Regions from separate parts of the Homo sapiens genome. Here region 2 is linked to region 1. The links come from fine-mapping of genetic effects on gene expression. A gene starts in region 1. The other region holds a variant in brackets. All regions are shown on one strand. Distances are between the middles of the regions.

Region 1 (9,866 bases):
CATGTAATTGTATGTAAACTGTACCTTGAATATAAACTTTACCTCAATTAAAAGGTTTATGTCCCTTTCCATTTAATCCCTGACCCAAACCCTCCAAATTTCTTTTCTTTTCTTTTCTTTTTGAGATAGATTCTCGCTCTGTCGCCCAGGCTGGAGTGCAGTGGTGTGATCTCGGCTTACCTTGGCCTCCCGGGTTCAAGTGATTCTCCTGCCTCATTCAGCCTCCCAAGTAGCTGGGATTACAGGTGCCTGCCACCACATCCAGCTATTTTTTGTATTTTTGGTAGAGACAGGGGTTTCACCATGTTGGCCAGGCTGGTCTCAAACTCCTGATCTCAGGTGATTCTCCCGCCTCGGCCCCCCAAAGTGCTGGGATTACAAGCATGAGTCACCATGCCCGACCCCTCTAAACTTCTTGACCTTGTGTCCAACAAACTCCTAGTCACCACCCTCAAATTATGCTAATCCTTGCCTCTGCACCTTTTCTTGTGCTGTTCCCTGTGAGGAAACTTAGCTTGCCCCTACACCTGGTTAACTTCCTATCTTCTTTTAAGACTCCTCTTCCAGGAAGCCTTCCTGATCTTCTCTTCCATTCAGGATGGGTGAGGTGCCTTTCCACAAAATCCTGTATTGCATTGACTACATCTTCATCACACATAGATTTTATTTTATAACATTTTTGTCTAAATATTCTTTTTCCACTTTAAACTCTGAGCTCTTTGAGACAGGAACTGGGTCATATTCTTTTTTTCTTTTTTATATTTGTATTTTTCTGGTCTTATTCTCATAGAAAGGACTGAGTCATATTCTGCTTTGAATTCCAGACTCTAGCAAAATGGCTGGCAAACAATATGTTTGTTGATTAAATAAATCGATGAATTAAATCAATTTTTTCCCCTAGGACACTGGCATGAAACTTTGAATACCATATTATATGACAGGCTCTTTCAGTTGCAAGAAACAAAGACTCAGATATGTGGGAGGATTCCAGAAGATACCCTTGCCCTTGGTAAGGCACTGACCCAACTTAGTCCGAGGGGCTTGTCTGTGTCATGGCCCCTCTGCTGCTCTCTGTTCAGCTTGTTGCTTCCCTTTTTTTCTTTTCTTTTATATGTATATTTTTTGAGACAGAGTCTCGCTCTATTGCCCAGGCTGGAGTGCAAATCTCAGCTCAATGCAACCTCTGCCTCCCAGGTTCAAGCGATTCTCCTGCCTCAGCTTCTCGAGTAGCTGGGATTACAGGCATGCGCCAGCATGCCCGGCTAATTTTTTTGTATTTTTAGTAGAGATGGGGTTTCGCCATGTTGACCATGCTGGTCTCGAACTCCTGACCTCAGGTGATCCGCCCGCTTCGGCCCCCCAAAGTGCTGGGATTACAGGCGTGAGCCTCCGCGCCCAGCCTGTTTGCCTCCCTTTTCTGATCAGCTTCCTCTGCTCACCTTTCATTTCTCCTTCCTCATAACTTCAGCTTGCATTTGGTCTCAGCTTCCTGTGGCCCTGACTTTATCTGACTCAAGTTGGCATTTGTGAAGGTAATAATCTAACAAGCTCCTCTCCGTTTTTCAGATCCACATCATGGTCCTATCATGTGGGGAACTGGCCTCTGGTCCAATGAGCAAAGATGGGTCCCACAAAATGTAGTTGCTTGGAGAGCAGGGCCTGACAGAAGGGGTGGGGAGGAGAGTGGCAGGCACTGAGGCCTCTCCTATTCTATTAATGAGCAAAGTGCCTTTTATTTTTGCCTCTCTTTGCTCCTGAATAATTTTTCTCATCCTTCATTTTAGGAAAGCCACTTATCTTCTTGATGCTTAGGGTTTCTAGAGACAAGGGATGTTGAAGCTGGAAGGAACTTCATAGCTCATCTTGGTCAGATCCCAGCATGTGCTCTGTATAACACTAGGCTCAAAAGATGCTTCATGAGAAAAAAAATCAAGATATTCCAGCATTTTCTTTGGATTTAAACTCACACCAGGCTCAAAAGATGCTTCATGAGAAAAAAAATCAAGATATTCCAGCATTTTCTTTGGATCTCAGCTCACACCAGGAGCATACTTCTCAGTGGTTCAATTTGCTTGGCAGGATCTCTGGTCTTCTGCTTGGATGGATCTCTGCAGGGTCCAGCGTCCTCTAAATTGGAGGCTCTGAATCAGGGATTCCTGAAAAGGCACAAGAGAGGCCCAAGCATGAACCTCTTGAAATTGTTTGCAAACTTCAGTCAGTGTTGTGTACATGTGCATGTGTGTGTGTTCCTGAGTGTCCATAGCTTTCATCAGATTCTTACAGGTAAATATCACCCGAGAGAATGGATAAGAACCACTGCTTTTTTTTTTTTTTGAGACAGAGTCTCACTCTGTCACCCAGGCTGGAATGCAGTGGCTCAGTCTTGGCTCACTGCAGCCTCTGGGTTCAAGTGATTCTTGTGCCTCAGCCTCCTGAGTAGCTGGGATTACAGGTTGCTCCACCATGCTGATTGATTTCTGTATTTTTAATAGAGATAGGGTTTTGCCATGTTGGCCAGGCTGGTCTTGAACTCCTGACTTCAAGTGATTCACCCGCTTGGGCCTCCCAAAGTGCTGGAATTATAGGCGTGAGCCATCACACCCAGCCAAGAACCACTGCTTTAAAGGGACATTGGTTGACTGTGCCTTCCTAAGGTAAAGGCCTTCTTGTTTTCTTCCAACTTAAACATTTTATCTGCTACACTCAATAACCATCGAGTATGTTTAAGAGAAAGTGCTTTATATAACAAAGCAGAAAGGCTCTTGATAATAACTTAGAGGCTTCATCCTTGCATTTTTCTCAAGATGAAAACGCTAACATAATGAGCTGTCAAGGTAGGTTCATCAATTGTAACAAATGGGCCACTCCAGTGGAGGATGTTGATCATGGGGGACGCTGTGCGTGCGTGGGGAGAGGGGATATATGACGTGTCCCTATACCTTCCGCTCAATTGTGCTGTGAACCTAAAACTGCTCTAAGAAATAAAGTCTATTAAAACAAGCAAACCAGCCAGCTGCAGTGGCTCACTCCTGTAATTCCAGCACTTTGGGAGGCCGAGGTGGGTAGATCGATTGAGCCCAGGAGTTTGTGAAACTCCCTCTCCACAAACAATTTTTGTAAAAATTAGCGGGGTGTGGTGGCACGTGCCTGTAGCCCCAGCTACTGGGGAGGCTGAGGTGGGAGGATTGTTTGAGCCTGGGAGGTTGTAGCTGCAATGAGCCATGATTACGCCACTGCACTCCAGCCTGGGTGACAGAGCAAGACCCTGTCTCAAAAAAAAAGTTAAACAACAACAAACCCAACAACCAACTAACCGAAACACTAAGAATCAGAGAAGTAAAATATAATTCGCTTCATCCAGACAGCTAGCCCGGTGAGGACTACAACCTTCCTCTCTTCCTTCTTCACTTCTTTGCTCTCTCTTTTTAAACCCACATCTTAGCAATTCCTCTGCTATTGGGTCATTAAATCGCCACCTCTAATTTTTTTTTCTAAGCATTTATTGAGGGCCAAGCACTGTGTTACACATCTCCTCATTAAAATGGTATAGCAACCTTTTCTGGTCGATATTATGATCCCATTTTTCAATTTTTACTTTTGAGTGAAGGACATTGATTCTTAGAGATTGTAAGGAACTTGCCCAAGGCTGCCGGCTGGTTAGTGGCAGAGCTGGGATGGGAAAGTCCGTATTTTCCACCGCGCTGTATTAGTGAGGGCTCTTTGTGTCACTTCTGTGCATAACTCCGCCCCAAGTTAAAAGGCTCGCTGCTCTCGACAGGTCCTCCTCCTCCTCCCGCTAGGTCCTCCTCCTCCTCCCGCCAGGTCCTCCTCCTCCTTCTCCTCCCGGGGCCCTGCCCTGCGGGTCTCACCTGCTGCTCCGCGGGGTCCCGGCGGGGGCCGGATAGCGCCCCCTGGCGGCAGGTGGGCGCCCGCGCAGCGCATGCTAATGAGCCCGCGGCGCCGCTCGCGGATTGGCTGGCGCGGATTCCAGCTGCTTTCCAAGTCAGCGGCGCCTAGTGAGAGTCAGGGGGGCCCGGCCCGCGCCCTCCCCGCCCAGCCGCCTCCCCGTCGACGCCCAGGGCTGGGGCGAGCCAGGCTGCCTTTCGAACTTGGGGGGCTTCTCCTCTTGTCTCCCACTGGTGCTCTGGCTGTGAATCCATCCAGGGGCCAGGATGACAATCCGACACCAAGGCCAGCAGTACAGGCCGAGGATGGCATTTCTCCAAAAGGTAACCCTGGCCCCTCACCTGGACCCTGGGAGGAGGGCGGGGGACCGCATCTGCGAAGCGTCCGAGGACAAGAGGGGCAGGAGTGGAGAGCACCCCTTTGGGTCGATTTGTGCTGCTCGATTTTATTAAGTGACTTCTTTGCTGTGTGTGTCGATATTGATGGCTATAATAATTAGGTTTTCGTGTGCCCTGCCTGTAGTGGAGAATCTGAAGCCAGCGCTGATGGTCTGCGGGAGGTGAAAACAACCTGTTACTCGGGAGAGGCAGGTTCAGTTCAGGCTGTGGCAGATTTGAGACAGCCTGCTGATATTGTTGTAAGACGACCAGATGTGACATTGCCATTTTTGCCTTTTTTTTCTGATCCCAAACTGCACTATTTTAAAGTGTGTGTGTGTGTACACATAGACCATGAAAACGGGGTGATTTGTAGGATAAAGGGCCACCCCATTTACAATGCCCTGAGAGCCCTCATTTGAGTGTGTCTATCTGTGCATCTCCTGCTGTCTGCGCTGGCGGCAGAAGTCCCAACCTTTTCGCTTCCCTTGCGAATGCTTTCCCAGACAAAGTGACCGGGCACAGGGTGTGCACACAGGATGGACATGTGGGAGGTGGAATGCACCTGTGGGGTGATGTGTTTGGGGACAAAGTGGTTCATTTAGTTCTGAGCTTCTGGTATAATCACTGTCCGATGAGATCTACAGAGGATTAGGTCCCGGGTCACATCTTTGTCCTTCCTCCCACCCGTAGCCACTTTTCACAGCGTAGTGTCCATCTTCTTAGGCTTATCTTGTTGAGTAGAATTAGTTGAATGTTTTGTGACAAGCTGAGCTCTCCCTGAGCCCCTGGAGCTCAGCAAATTTGTATAGTCAGTGACCGCTGTCCTGATTTGCCCAGGACTTTCAATGCTAAAACCTGGACAGTCCTGGGGACCCCGAGACGGTCGCATTTGGTCCACCTGTTTCAAGATGCTCGTGCTCATCTTCCGGGTAGCAGAGGTGTGGGTATCATCTGTAAAGCAGACAGGCTGAATGTTGTCTCACTCAGAAAGAACCCTGAGAGCCTGTATTGCAGATACCAGTTACTAAAAGCAGAAGAAACTGCCTAAGTCGGCTATCTCAAAGCCACACATCATCTTCCAGGATTTATCCTAGGACTGTCTCCTCCCAGGCAGGACAGCTCTGGCTTGGGGGCTCAGAGGGTAATTGTCAAGAGATAAATTCAGTTTGTTTATTGAATCTCTGGCATTCTTTTCCATCATGACTCTTCTCTGGTAGATTCTCCTCTCCTTACCTTGGTCTTCTGACTAGTGTCTTGGTCTCTAGTTTCTCTCCTCCACCCCAGGCTTCCCTCCTCCTCCCCAGCCACCCCTCCTCCACCCCAGCATCCCCTCCTCCACCCCAGCATCCCCTCCTCCACCCAAACTCTCCCTCCTCCACCTTAGTCTCCCTTCCTCCACCCTAACCTCTCCCTCCTCCATTCCAGCTCCCCTCCTCCACCCCAGCTCTCCCCCCTCCACCCCACCTTTCCCTCCTCCACCCCAGGTCCTCTTCCTCCACCCTGTCTTCCCCTTCCTCTACCCCATCCTCCTCCTCCTCCCCAGCCTTCTCCTCCTCCATCCTAACTTACCTCTCCTCTACCCTAACCTCCCCCTCCTGCATCCCAGCTCCCCATCTTCCACCCCGGTCTCCCCTCCTCCATGACAGCTTTCCTACACACACTGTTTTTTTCCCCCAAATCAATGGTGACCTCCTTGACCTGAAACGCTCCACTGGCTTCCCACATTCCCAGCATAAAGTCCAACCTTCCCCTGAGCAGCCTGGTTACCCAGGATTCCGCTCCCACCATCTTCCTGGCTTTGCCTCCTGCCTGCCTTCCACACCTGCCCTCTGGGAAACAACAAAGCAGCCACAGGCACCCCTGGGCTCCTGCCTCAAACACTTCCTTCCTTTTTAGGAACCCGGTGCCCTTTCATGCCTCAGGGTCCGTCTGCTGGGAAAGTCCTTTCTCCCCCTCTCGCTTGCCAAGCTCCACTTCTCTTCCCATGCCCAGCTCAGTCACCCCTCGGCTGTGAAGGCTGGTTCTCCTAATGCCCCTGGGCAGGACAGCTCCCTTCTCTGTGCACTACAGACCTTGCCACACCTCCAGCATTGCTCTTTCCCTAGACCTTGTGCTGGCAAGGGCCCTGTCTATGTATCCTCTATATCTATGTATGTATTGGTCATGTCACAGAGCTCCTTGGAGCAGCAGACAGAATAAAGGTCTGCAGAACAGGTCTCAAGAGCCCATGCCAGGCGATCCTTAATGAAGAACCAGCTACATTCGATGTTCAGCTTTCTGGAGAAGGGCCTGGAACAAAAAAATGTGGACCTGGGTGCAACTGTCACTCATCACTCGTTCCATGCATGTGATGAAGTACACGGTGTCCATGATGGTGTGGAGGGGTGGGCATTATGTGCATTATCTCATCTATTTCATTAGCTGGAGGTTATGGCCACCATTTTACAGAGAAGAAAGCTGAGGCTCAGAGAGGCTAAGCGGCTTGCCAGTCACGCAGCACTAGGTGGTGAAACCAAGAAGAAATACAGGAGTGGTCGTTGTCTGTCACAAGTTGTGGTGCAATGCCCTGAGCTTTCCCATGACGTAGGGCAGAGTGTGGAGGCTGTGGGAAAGCCTGGCTCAGTGTGCTTAGGGACACAGAGCTGAGACCTGAAGGATACATAGGGTTTCCAGGCAGAAAGGGAAAGATGTTTCAGGCAGAGGGAACAGTTTACGCACAGAGGCATGGGAAAGCTAGTGGGTTTGGGGCCATGTTCTGTAATGGATGGATTTTGAAGTGCAAGGGGAGTGGGAAGCTGGAAAGGAAAGGCAGAGGTAGTGGGTGCCTATGGGCCTTCAAGACCTTTTAAAGGTTTGGTTTTATCTCATACGGAGCCACTATAGAAATTGGAATGGGCAAGTGATATGGCAGATTTGCAAATTAAGAAGATCACTGGTGGGCCAGTTGCAGTGGCTCATGCCTGTAATCCCAGCAGTTTGGGAGGCCAAGGTAGGTGGATCATCTGAGATCAGGAGTTTGAGACCAGCCTGGCCAACATGGCAAAACCCTCTGACTATTAAAAATATAAAAATTAGCAGGGCGTGGTGGTGAGCACCTGTAATCCCAGCTACTTGGGAGGCTGAGGCAGGAGAATTGCTTGAACCCGGGAGGTGGAGGTTGCAGTAACTGAGTTCACAAGTTCTTGCCACTACACTACACTCTAGCCTGTGTGACAGAGAGAGACTCTGTCTAAAAAAAAAAAAAGGACCACTGGTGTGAGCCAGAGGAATGGGTGGAATGCCTTCTCCCTGAACTAAGAGAGTTCACTCAGGATCCTCCTGTGCCCCTGCAGCTCCAACCTCTTGAGAAATGACAACTGTCATGGGGCCATGGAGAGCCATACTGGTCAGAAAGGACCGTGTGCGATTCCCGAGGTTCTCACACCCATGCCTCCATCTCAGTCTCAATGCAGCTGTGGGTCGGGATGCCCGCCGGCCATGCTGCTTCCCACCTCTGATGCCTGGGCTCGTTTCAGATGTGGTAGAAAGAGGCAGAAGGCCCATCTGTTCATGGCTTTGCTGGGGAATTAGCTGATGGCACACAGTGGACAGATGAACACAGGTGGGTGGCCTCCTGTGGTTCCAGCACCCATGGACTCTTGTTCTGGGGATGGCCCATTCCCCTCTGCAATTACCAGATCACCATCCCAGCCAGTACCACCACCGCCCTTGGGATTCACCATGGGCGAATTTCTTGGACTTTCTTGGAGAAGCCTTCTGGTGACAGCTTTGTTTTCCTGTGCGGCTTCTGGCATCTCTTTTTGCCTGAGAAAGGAATGCAGAAGCAGAAATATTGAGGATATCCAGGCCGAGTTTGGTATCTCTTGCTTGTAACATTCTTTCATTCAATACAGACATATAATTGGGTACTTATGGGCTAGATGCTGTGCCAGGTGCTGGGAGCACCAAGGAGCTTAGAGTCTAGTGGAGAAAGACAGATGTATAAACAAGGAGACAAGAAGTGTTCCATAGGCTGTGGCAGACATTGTTGGAGGATACATGTGACACCAAGCAGGGAGTGGTCAGTTCTACCTGGGGTCAGGGGGGATCAGGACAGATTTTACAAGGGGGCTTGCAATGGAGTCGAATTATAAAAAGTCAGTAGTTTTTGGCCAGGAGGTTGAGGAAATGAGTGACATTTTAGGCAATACAAAACAGGGACATGTGAAGTAGCATGGTGGTTTGGGAGATTGCCTGCGGGTTGGGAGAGCTGGCCCCAAGTGTACAGGAAGTGAGTTTGGCGTTGATGGAGAAGACTGGTAGGTAAGAAAGGCCCAGATCTGCTGGGTGCAGTGGCACATGCCTGTAATCCCAGTACTTTGGGAGGCTGAGGTGGACGGATCACTAGGTCAGGAGTTCAAGACCAGCCTGGCTAACATGGTGAAACCAAAAATACACAAATTAGCCAGGCATGCTGGCATGCGCCTGTAATCCTAGCTACTTGGGAGGCTGAGGCAGGAGAATTGCTTGAACCCAGGAGGCGGAGGCTGCAGTGAGCTGAGATCATGCCACCGCACTCCAGCCTGGGTGACAGAGCAAGACTCAGTCTCAAAAAAAACCCAAAAACCAAAAACCAAAAACAAACAAACAAAAAGAAAAGCCCAGAACTGGAGGGCTTCCTAGGTCATGCTACAGAGTTTGATGGCTTCTGTGTTTAATGAGAAGCTGTTTGACGTTTTAAAATCAGGGATGAATAAGATGAGTTGGTTTATATGCTAGAAAGATGATTCTGGTGAGAGGGAATGAGTAATTCTCAACCTGGGCTGCACTTTAAAAAACATTAATATCAACTCACTCTACTTTGAGTTTCTGATTTACTTGGCCTGGAAGTGAGGCTTAAGCATTGGTCTTTTTATGCCACTGTTTTTCTCCCTTCCTTTCTTTTTTTTTTTTTTTTGTTTGTTTTTGAGACAGAGCCTGTCTCTGTTGCTCAGGCTGGAGTACAGTGGCGAGATCTCGGCTAACGGTAACCTCTGCCTCCCGGGTTCAAGTGATTCTCCTGCCTCAGCCTCCCAAGTAGCTGGGGATACTGGGACCTGCTACCATGCCTGGCTAATTTTTGTGTTTTTAGTAGAGACGGGGTTTCACCATGTTGGTCAGGCTGGTCTCAAACTCCTGACCTCAGGTGCCCCACCTGCCCTGCCTCCTAAAGTGCTGGGATTGCAGGTGTAAACCACAAAGCCTGGCCTGGTTTTCTTTTTGTTTCTTTCTTTCTTTTTTTTTCTTTTTTAACAATTTCTTTTTTTAGAGATGGGTTTTCACTATATTGCCCAGGCTGGACTCAAGCTCCTGGGCTCAAGGGATCCTCTCACCTTGGCTTCCTGAGTAATTTCATTTACAGGTGCCTGCCATCATGCCAGGCTTAACCATTGCTCTTTTTGAAAAGTTTTCCAGGTGGTTTGAATGTGCAGTCAGGATGAGAGCCTCTGGGGACATTTGGCAATGTCTAAATACATTTTAGGTTGTCATAACTGGGGGTGCTCCTGGCATCTAGTGGGTGGAGGACATGAATGCTGCTAAACATCCTACAACACACAGGAC
Region 2 (9,866 bases), 35 kb after region 1:
TGTTGCCAACTCCTCTTTCTCTAGGGCGAGAATTGGATCAGCAGGAGGAGCTGCTCAGTGTTGGGTTAGCATCCAAGTGCCTCTTGGCCAGAAAAGGAAGTTCTCTGCCTGGATGGGGTCTGCTCATGGCCCATCTGTTGGTGTTAGGTAGGGAGGGACCTGAATGAATTTGTCTTTTACGAGGGCTGGGACTTTTTTTTTTTTTTTTTTTTTTGCTAGGATATCATACCTTGGGAAAGGAATATAAGGAGAAAAAATTAGAACGTAGGCCCCAATGGAGGCGCCAATGCAGAAAAATAGAGTCCCGTGAGAATGGAAACTGCTTGGCCAAAGTTCTCCTTGGTGTCTCTAGCTCCCTCACTTTTTCCTCTCCTAGATCCAGTTCCCAGCAGCTGAGATGGGAGAAGGAGAAGGAATACGTCTGTGTTGAGCTTCTCCTTGCTTGGAGCACACTGAATCTCTGGCTTTGGGACTTCAGTGGCCCAGAGGGACAAGCTGTACAGAGCTGGTGTAACTTGCCCCAGCTCATCACTGGGAAATGGTAGCCTCATTCCCCAGCACACAGAAGTGGGGTCTGACTGCTACATACTGGGATTAACTCTGCTACCTCAGTTTCCTCCTGTACAGCTCCCTGTGCTGCCTATGGGTCATGGGAGGTAGGAGATGTGAATGAGATTCTGGAAACCGAAGAGTTAGAAAGAAATGTTCTTCCTCCTCTTCCTTTAGCTTCCTTGCCTGCCAGGTATCAGAAATTCTCAGAAGCAGAAGGAGAACTGAGTGAGGCCTGGTGTCAGAGTTTATGGATTTTTGAGTTTCAAGCCCATCCGATTTTGGCTGTTTTGCTTATATTCTTTATATACTGAAAACAGATTCTCCTAAGGTGTTCCACTCTGTAGCGGCATGGGTTTGGATGCTGTGTTGCTGAGGTTAAGGTGCTGAGGTTGATCCCAAACAGCTTGTTTGATTTTTTCTTTGCTTCAGGGTTTCTCCTCTAGGGAAACCAGTTTACAGATGCCTGACGCAGGTATCTGGGGGCCGGGTGACAGAGCACAGGGTCCCAGAGATAAGCACCCCTCCTGGTTGGTAGCGAAGAAACTCTTTGTATGAGAAGGAGCCTCACATTGCTCGTGTGTTCCAGAAGCACTCTGTGGTGAGGATAAGGAGACATGGCGGATATGCCACATTTGGCAAGACACCTTGGTGCCCAGTGGCACCATACCTGAGGGTAGGTAAAGAACGGCTTCTATATTATGTGCAGAGACTCCTCACTGTGCGAATGCCTATGTGACTACATTCCTTGCAAAGTGACATAGACTAGCTATGCATTAACATGAAAAATTGATCATCCGGGTTCTTCTCAGTTCTTCTGGGGTAAGTTCTCAGCCCCCACCAGGCTAGTGGCTGAGTGGCTCTTCACAGGATGATGCTGAATCACATAAATATGACCATGTGTCTCTATGACCACTGCCTCCCCCCCAGCCCATCTCCACCACCATGACCGTCATCCCACCTCCCACTCCCTCACCTCCTTTATCTCCCTGACCTCTACCACCTCTCTTATTTCCCCCACTTTCTCCACCACCTCCACCACCCTTATTGTCTTCATCACTGTGGTCACTGTCACCGTCACCATCACAGTAGACATGAACTGAGAACTCCCAGTGTGCTGGGCACTGTGCTAAGCCTTCTGCATTCTTTTTTTTTTTTTTTTTTTTTTCTGAGATGGAGCCTTGCTCTGTCACCCAGGCTGGAGTGCAATGGCACGATTTCGGCTCACTGCAACCTCTGCCTCCCAGGTTCAACCAATTCTACTGCCTCAGCCTCCTGAGTAGCTAGGATTACAGGCATGCACCACCATGTCCGGCTAATTTTGGCATTTTTAGTAGAGATGGGGTTTCACCATGTTGGTCAGCCTAGTCTTGAACTCCTGACCTCGTGATCTGCCTGCCTCGGCCTCCCAAAGTGCTGGGATTACAGGCGTGAGCCACCGCGCCTGGCCGCCTTCTGCATTCTTATTGAACCTTTGCAGCCCTGTGTGGAAGGGTTTATTATTATTCTCATTGTACTGATAAGCAAGTGAAAGCTCAAGGATGCTGCTAATTTGCCCAAAGTTACACAGCTAGTTAGTGCCAGAGGGTCTGAACCCACATACCACTGACTGTGGAGCACCAACCCCTGCACCTTAGCCCTGTGCACTTCTGCCTCTCATGACAATGTCATGTGATATCTTGGTACAGTTCAGTCCTTTGGTAACCTCCTCGGTCATTAGAACGTTGCCTGGGTCACTGCTGCTCTAAGAAGCCGAATGCCTGGGTTTACACGTGCCTGGTCCTTCTTTGACAGCACTGGGGACCCAAGTTCAGCATGAGGCTTTGATGGACTCAGAGTGGTCCTAGAACTTCCAGGACTAAAAACTGCTCCCCACATCTAACCTCTTTCATGGCTGCTCCCTGAGTGAAAACCAGACCAGTAGTCAAAGATGAGGCAGGAGAGTGCAGTGGCCCCACTCTCTGTGATTTTCTTAAAATTCTCCCCATCTCTTGTTGGCCTGTGGGGGTGGAAGGTAGTGTTTTTGAAGAGCATCTCAGTCTAGAAATTGAGCAATCTGACTGACAGGCTCAGGAAGCCCCGGAGCTCACAGGCTGCCAGACTGTCTCCAGGAGACCCAAACAAACCGTCAGTTCAATGGGAAAAAAGCCAGCCAAGGCAAACAAAGCACTTGGCGCCGTGGAGTGTCGCGGCCACTCCGTGTCAGACTGTAACCAACAGTTGTAGAGTGAGACGTGGCCTGCTGTTACTGAACCGACTCATTCACTTGTTCATTTGTCTGTTCATTGATCCATGAAATCTTCGTTGAGCCTTGACTTTGTCCCAGGGAAGGGGTTAGGTGCTGGGTGTGAAATAACAGCCAAGAGTCATTGAGTACTCCTCTGAACCTGTGTTAAGCTCTTGGCACAGATGACCTCATTGACGCCTGATGCTATGATGTAGGGAATATCACCATCCCCGTTATTCAGATGGAGAAATTGAGGCTCATAGAGGTTCAGTAGCCTGCTCAGTTCTGGGAGAGGAAGCCACATCTTTCTGATGGTAAAGCCCGATATTCTGCTTCTGTGCAAGGAGGCCCCACCCGTGGTCCCTCTCTCAGCTCAAGGAGCTCAAAATCCAAATTGCTGGAGCACAGGTGAGTGACACTCTCCCAGAGATAAGACCTAATTGCAGAAGGGGCACAGCGAGAGGGTGATTGATTTAGAAAGGCAGGGAGAAATGTCTGATAGATGGTGTTTCAGGGAGATCATCACTGGCAAAGGCCAAGACCCCACGTGGGTGGTGGTAGTTGAGGGCTCTGACCTGAATTCCTACCCAGAGCCCAAAGGACACCTGTGATTCAGCATCCTGTAATGAAGGAAAACGATGTTTCTCACCTGTTTTTTACTCAAATGGAACCAAGTACAGATCTGAGCACGATGCAAACAACAGTGAGTTTTGTAAATGAACAAAGGGAGAAAGTGCTCCCTTAGACAGGCATGTGGAGGCCTTCCCTGCATCTTTGCTGTGCCATCTGTGACTTCCTGCCTCCCAAGGATGTAGTCTGAGGCTGCTTCCTGGCGGTGGGTGTGCTTATCTGCTTATCAAGCTAAATGACCCTTGTTTCAACCACATATGCAGACACTTGCCAGAGATGTCTGCCCTCCATTTCCCATCGAAGTTAGGCTAAATGTCCAACAATGGAAAATGGCAAAATAAATTGAGGTATATTAACATGATGGAACATTGTGAAGCTATTCAAATAATATTTTCAAAGGCCATTCATTGATCTAGGAAAATGATCTGACATACAATGTGTTTTTTGTTTGTTTGTTGTTTTTTGTTTGTTTTTGAGACAGAGTCTCGCTCTGGGGTGCAGTGGCATGGTCTTGGCTCACTGCAACCTCTGCCTCTTGGGTTCAAGCAATTCTCCTGAATCAGCCTCCTGAGTAGCTGGAATTACAGGCGCCTGCCACCACACCTGGCTAATTTTTGTATTTTTAGTAGAGACGGCGGTTTCACCATGTTGGCCAGGCTGGTCTCGAACTCCTGACTCTACCTTGGCCTCCCAAAGTGCTAGGATTCCAGGCATGAGCCACTGTGGCGGCCTGACACATAATGTTATATTATAAAACCAGGGTGGGTGGAATGCTCCATGTGCCATGGTCCAAAAATAAAAAATAAAAAAAATTAACATATATTTTGTGAATATCTGCTCTATGCCGGGTGCTTACTAGGCATTGGGGATATTTGGATTATGAGCCAAGACAGACATTGCCCGTGACCTCAAGGAGTTTCTTGCAGTCTGGTGGAGAGACAAAGACTAAAATGATTAAACCAATGAATGAGTAACAAGCAGAATGCCATGGCAGCTGGTAGGAGGCAGGGGCTCTGCGTCCGGTTGGGGGTCAGGGAACACAGGACACAGGACGTGGAGAGTGACATTCAAGCCAAGATCCTCTAGGAGCTGACTTTCCTAACACAGCAACATAAAATTGTCTCCCTGTTTCACCTCATCTCTATTTCTTTTTTCTTTCTTTCTTTCTTTCTTTTTTTTTTGAGATGGAGTGTTGCCCTATTGCCCAGGCTGGAGTGCAATGGCGTGATCTCAGCTCACTGCAACCTTCGCCTCCTGGGTTCCAGCGATTCTCCTGCCTCAGCCTGCCGAGTAGCTGGAATTACAGGTGTGCGCCACCTCGCCTGGCTAATTTTTTGTATCTTTAGTAGAGATGGGTTTTCACTGTGTTGGCCAGGCTGGTCTCGAACTCCTGACCTCATGATCTGCCGGCCTCAGGCTTTCAAAGTGCTGGGATTACAGGCATGAGCCACCGCGCCTGGCCTCATCTCTATTTCTTTCCCCTGTCTTATTTTGTTTAGAAAACGAGTTAGTGTTTTACTTAGTATTTGTTTTCTGTTCCATGCACCAGAAGAGTCTGATATTTTTGGGAAGAGAGTGAAGCTGAGAGAAGGAGGGGCAGGGGGACACGGTGGAGTACCACCGAGAAGTGTCCGTCAGCTCCACGCTGGCCTTGCTCTGTATGTGGGTTCCTGGGAACATCGCCTCCTCACGAGCAGTTGTCACGAGTACAGGAGCTCCTTTCCTGACCTGAATGATGATGCATTGAGCAAATTGCCTCTTTGGCTTACACC[C/T]AAGGGATGTTGTTTGTGGGGGGCGGGGTCATACCCTGGTGTTCACAGTTCCTCAGGGTGGAGGAGGGGAGCTTGCATGTCTCTGAAGGCTTCCTGCATGAGGCACCAGGGCAGAAAGTGCCTGCTGCCTCCTTATCTGCGGGCCACACACCGCAGGATGCATCGGCTGCCCTTATTTCCTGGGCGCTGACAGTCAGTTCTGGTTAACTTCATCTGAACACCCTGTTATGTGCCAGAAACTGTGTCAGCAGCACTCTGGTGATGATCATAGTGGGTCAAAGACTTTACACTACCTGATGAATGAAGAAATGGATGAATGAAAGGAGCTTGGGAGTCTCTGAAACCAGCAGAGGCAGAAAGGCAGCCCTCTCACCAGTTTCGAGGGCAGGGAACTGGAAAAGGACCACAGCTTGATTGGGAACAACTGAGACTTAAGGGCTGCTGCCCACAGAGGTGCAAGAGCCGAGGCAGCAGTGGCCAGAGGACTGTGCCTGGCTGTTCTGTAGGGAAGGCATGGAGAGCCAGGTTGGGGCTGGAACTGGACAGGCTGGCAGAATCATGAAGCCCAGTGGGTGGCTGCAGGTCTGAGAGTCTAAGGCCGTCTGGTCTGGGCAGCTGAGGGCATAGAGGACTCTATCTCAGTTATGCAGTGCACTGTTGAGCACTGGGGCAACCAAATTTATATCAGAGCCTGGGGCACATTGGAAGGAAAGAACTAGATAACGAATTCAAGACTTGAGCAGATGACCACACCGAAGTCACCGAGGCAGTGAGCGCCTGTGGAATAGCAGCCAGACACTGGTTGTAGGGCATCATGAGCACAGGCTGTGTGTGAGTGTGAGTGCATGTCAGTATGTCTGGGTGTGCATGTATGTGAGTGAGTGTGTGAATGTATGTGTGCGAGTGTGTGTACATGTGTGCATGTGTGTGAGCATGTATGTCAGTGTGTTGGCGTGTCAAGGTGTGCATGTATGTGAGAATATGTATGTATGTGTGAGAGTGTGTAGATGTGTACATGTAAGTGAGCATGTATGTGAGTGTGAGTGTGCATATGTATATGTGAGTGTGCCTAGGTTTGTGCATGCATGTAAACATATATGTGTCAGTATGCACGTGTGTGAGTGTGTGAATGTGTTATGTGTGAGCATGCATATGTGTGTGCATGTATGTGAGCATGTTTTTGTGTATTCATTCTCATAGTGTTATAAAGAAATACGCAAGACTGGGTAATTTATAAAGGAAAGAGGTTTAATTGACTCACAGTTCTGCATGGCTGGGGAAGTCTCAGGAAACTTACAATCATGGCGGAACGGGAAAAGGCACATCTGACATGGTGGCAGGCGAGAGAGAGCGAGTATGTGAAAGAGGAACTGTCAGACACTTATAAAACCATCAGATCTCATGAGAACTCACTATCATGAGAACAGCATGGGGGACACCACCCCCATAATCCAGTCACCTCCCACCAGGTCTCTCCCTCAATCCCTGGGGATTATGGAGATTACAGTTCAAGATGATATTTGGGTGGGAACACAGAACCAAACCATATTAATGTGTGTGTGTGTGTGTGTGTCAGGACATGTGTGTATGTGAGTGTGTGTGAGTGTGCATATGTACATGTGGGAGTATGTGTAGGTGTGTGCATGTATGTGAGCATGCGTGTGTGAGTGTGCCAGTGTGTCAGGGCATGTATGTATGTGAGCATGTGTGAGTGTGCATATGTATGTATGAGAGTGTGTGGGTGTGTGAGTGTGAGTGTGAGAGTGTGTGAACGTGCCAAAGTGTGTGTATGAAGTCTGCCTTCAGTTATGCAGGGGGATTTCTCCATACCAGATTCAGGGGGCAACTCCTAGAACCCTTTTTGGCAAAGGCACTGACTCTGCTGAGCCCCTGCCATGTGAGGTTAGATCCCATGGTGTTATCCCTTCAAGACACCTGTCTCAACTCTAATTTATCCTTTGTGTGATTAATTGCTGAGTGGCTACCTCCCCCTTGAGACTGGGAGTGCCTCAGTAATGCCTGCTGGGGAGCAGTGGTCTCGGGGCACACTCACCATGGGCTCCCCAGGGCTCAGCACAATGTCCGGCACATAAGAAGTGCCCCATAGATATTTGCTGATCAAGATCCACTTGTAACAACTAGGGTAAGGATGGCCATTCCCTTTCCCTGTCCTCCTCCCCACCCACTTTCTATTGCCTTTTCCTTTCTCTTCCCTGTGTCGTCTTGTCTGCACATATTTGCCTCCATGGTAGCCCGGTGAGCTAGGTTGCTAGATTTAGCAAATAAAATACAGGAAATTTGGTTGAATTTGAATTTCAGATAAACAACAAATAATTTTTATGTAAAATGTATTTTGTATATTTAGTATAAATATATAATAAGCATCAAAATATTGGGACAGAAATTATTTGCCATTTATCTTAAATTAACTGGGCTTCCTACATTTTATCTGGCAGTCTTACATCTGAGCTAAAACCCAGTCTGATCCCATGGATGAGGCTGAATTTGATGGCAAGAAAGCCCAGTTGCTTCCCAACTCTCTGCTTCAGTGTAGCCAACCTGGTTGGTCACATGTGCTGAGCAATGGGTGGATGCCTGGCATCACACCTGCATCAGGGGAAGTGAAAGACCCAAATTATTGGTCTCAAAGAGTCAAGGAGTTGAGAGAGACCAAGTAAGATTTTCTGGAGAGCTGGGTTACCTGCTGGCAAAGGGAACTAACAGAGATTACAGTCCCAGTTTTGGGCCATTCTTTTACATATGTAATCTTAAAATGAATACAACCCCTTGCTCAGCAATAGCTACCTTCTGTGGAGAGCTTCACACCCTATCTTGTTAAATCTTCACAAGAACCTGCCACGTAGGAGGATTCTTCTCTGTTTCTTAGAGAGGTTAGTGAGTGCCAAGACAAGGAGTGTTTTCCAAGATCTTCTGCACAGCTGGGAAGTGGCAGAACCAGGAGTGGCACCCAGACGTGCCTGACAAGCCTGGACTTTCCCAAAGCACTGCTCTGTCACTTCACTTTTCCCGCCAAGCCCAAGATGAAACCACAGAGTGTGGGGAAGGAGCACTGTGGGAAGAGTCAGGAAGCCCATGTATTAGTCTCAGTGAACTCTTTTGGAGCCTGAATGTTACCCATCCATATGCCCACTCACTCATCCATCCATCTACTCACTCAACCATCCATCCATCCATCCATCCATCCATCCATCCATCCATCCACCCATCCACCCATCCGTCTATCTCTTCACCTATCCATTCACCATCCATCTACCACAAATTTACCCATTCATCCATGCATCCATCCCTCCATCTATACATCCCACTATGGTGCTGAGTTTGCCATTCATCTGTCCATCCATCCATCCATCCATCCATCCATCTCTTCACCCATCCACTCACCATCCACCTACCACCCATTCATCCATCCATCCCTCCTTCCCTTCCTCCATCCATTCGTACACCATTCCATTCCTTCATCCATCCATCTCACTATGGTGCTGGGGATGCCATTCATTTGTTTGTCCATCCATCCATCCATCCATCCATCCATCCATCCATCCTTCCATCCCTCCATTCATCCATCTCACTATGGTGCTGGGGATGCCATTTATCTGTCCGTCCATCCATCCATCCATCCATCCACCCATCCATCCATCCGTTTATTCACCCACCCACCATCCACCTACCACCCATTTACCTATTCATTCATCCATCCACCCATCCCCCTCTCCTTCCCTCTTTCCTGCCACCCATCCAACTCTGGTGCTGGGAATGCCATTCATCTGTCTGGCCATCCATCCATCCATCCATCCACTCACCCACCCATCAACCATCTACCCGCCACCCATTTACCTATTCATCCATCCACTTATCCATGCATCCCACTATGGTGCTGGGGATGCCAACCACCTGTCCATTTTTCCATCCATCCACCCACCCACGCATCTACCCATCCTTCTCTCCCTCCATCCTTCCATCTCACTATGTTAGGTGCTGGGGATACTGGGAGGCATAACAGCCCTCATGAAGCTCAACAGCTCACCTGGAGGGTTTACACCCACTCAAAGCTTCCCATGGGCTAGGCCACAAGCTCTTCTCAGCTCAATCTCACAATTGGCAGATTAACCAAGACCCACAGTTAACCAGAAACTGGAGACTCTCCCTGTAATGACCTTATGTTGTTTTTATTCCATTTAGCCTGGAATGGACAATGTGCTGGACTACGGCCTGGACCGAGTGACCAATCCGAATGAAGTCAAGGTAAACCAGGTATGTCTCTGCTGCATAGTTTGGGTAGGGCCTAGGTCGGATTCTGGGGCTGGGAAGGTGTCCACATGTCTATTCGTGTCTGTTAGGGCAACGATATCTCCTCTTTGAGACTATCAAAGAGAGGAGGACCGTGGGCTCTGTGGACTCAGGGTTAGGGGAGAAGTGGGACCATGGCAGGATGCTAGGTGAGAAGAAATTACGACTGAAGACAGACAGAGGCTGTAGAGTGCAGGGAAGAGCTAATGGGATCTAGATGGCTGGTTTTCAAACTTTTCTGAGTCACTTCCCCCTTCGAAAATCTGATGAAAGTTATGAGCTCATTCCACTCAAAGATGCACAGACAGACATTCTGTACACAGTTTCAGCCAGTTCCTTGATCCTGAGGAGACTGTAGACCCCAGCCTCGAAACTCTTGA

What was found.
Region 2: its variant is fine-mapped to the expression of RGS9 in whole blood (TOPMed, PIP 0.99).

What each region holds. Positions count from the first base shown.
Region 1 is chr17:65,133,369-65,143,234 of GRCh38, forward strand. It overlaps RGS9 (regulator of G protein signaling 9), which reads left to right and starts at 4,002. Exons shown (of 19, transcript NM_003835.4): 1 at 4,002-4,229. The coding sequence starts at 4,173. RefSeq lists a silencer at 3,692-4,191.
Region 2 is chr17:65,168,354-65,178,219 of GRCh38, forward strand. It overlaps RGS9 (regulator of G protein signaling 9), which reads left to right. Exons shown (of 19, transcript NM_003835.4): 9 at 9,379-9,450. It also overlaps the pseudogene ZNF848P. Among named protein-coding and RNA genes, the nearest start is that of RGS9, 36 kb to the left of the region's middle. RefSeq lists an enhancer at 4,597-5,390. The variant C/T (reference allele first, on the strand shown) is at 5,179.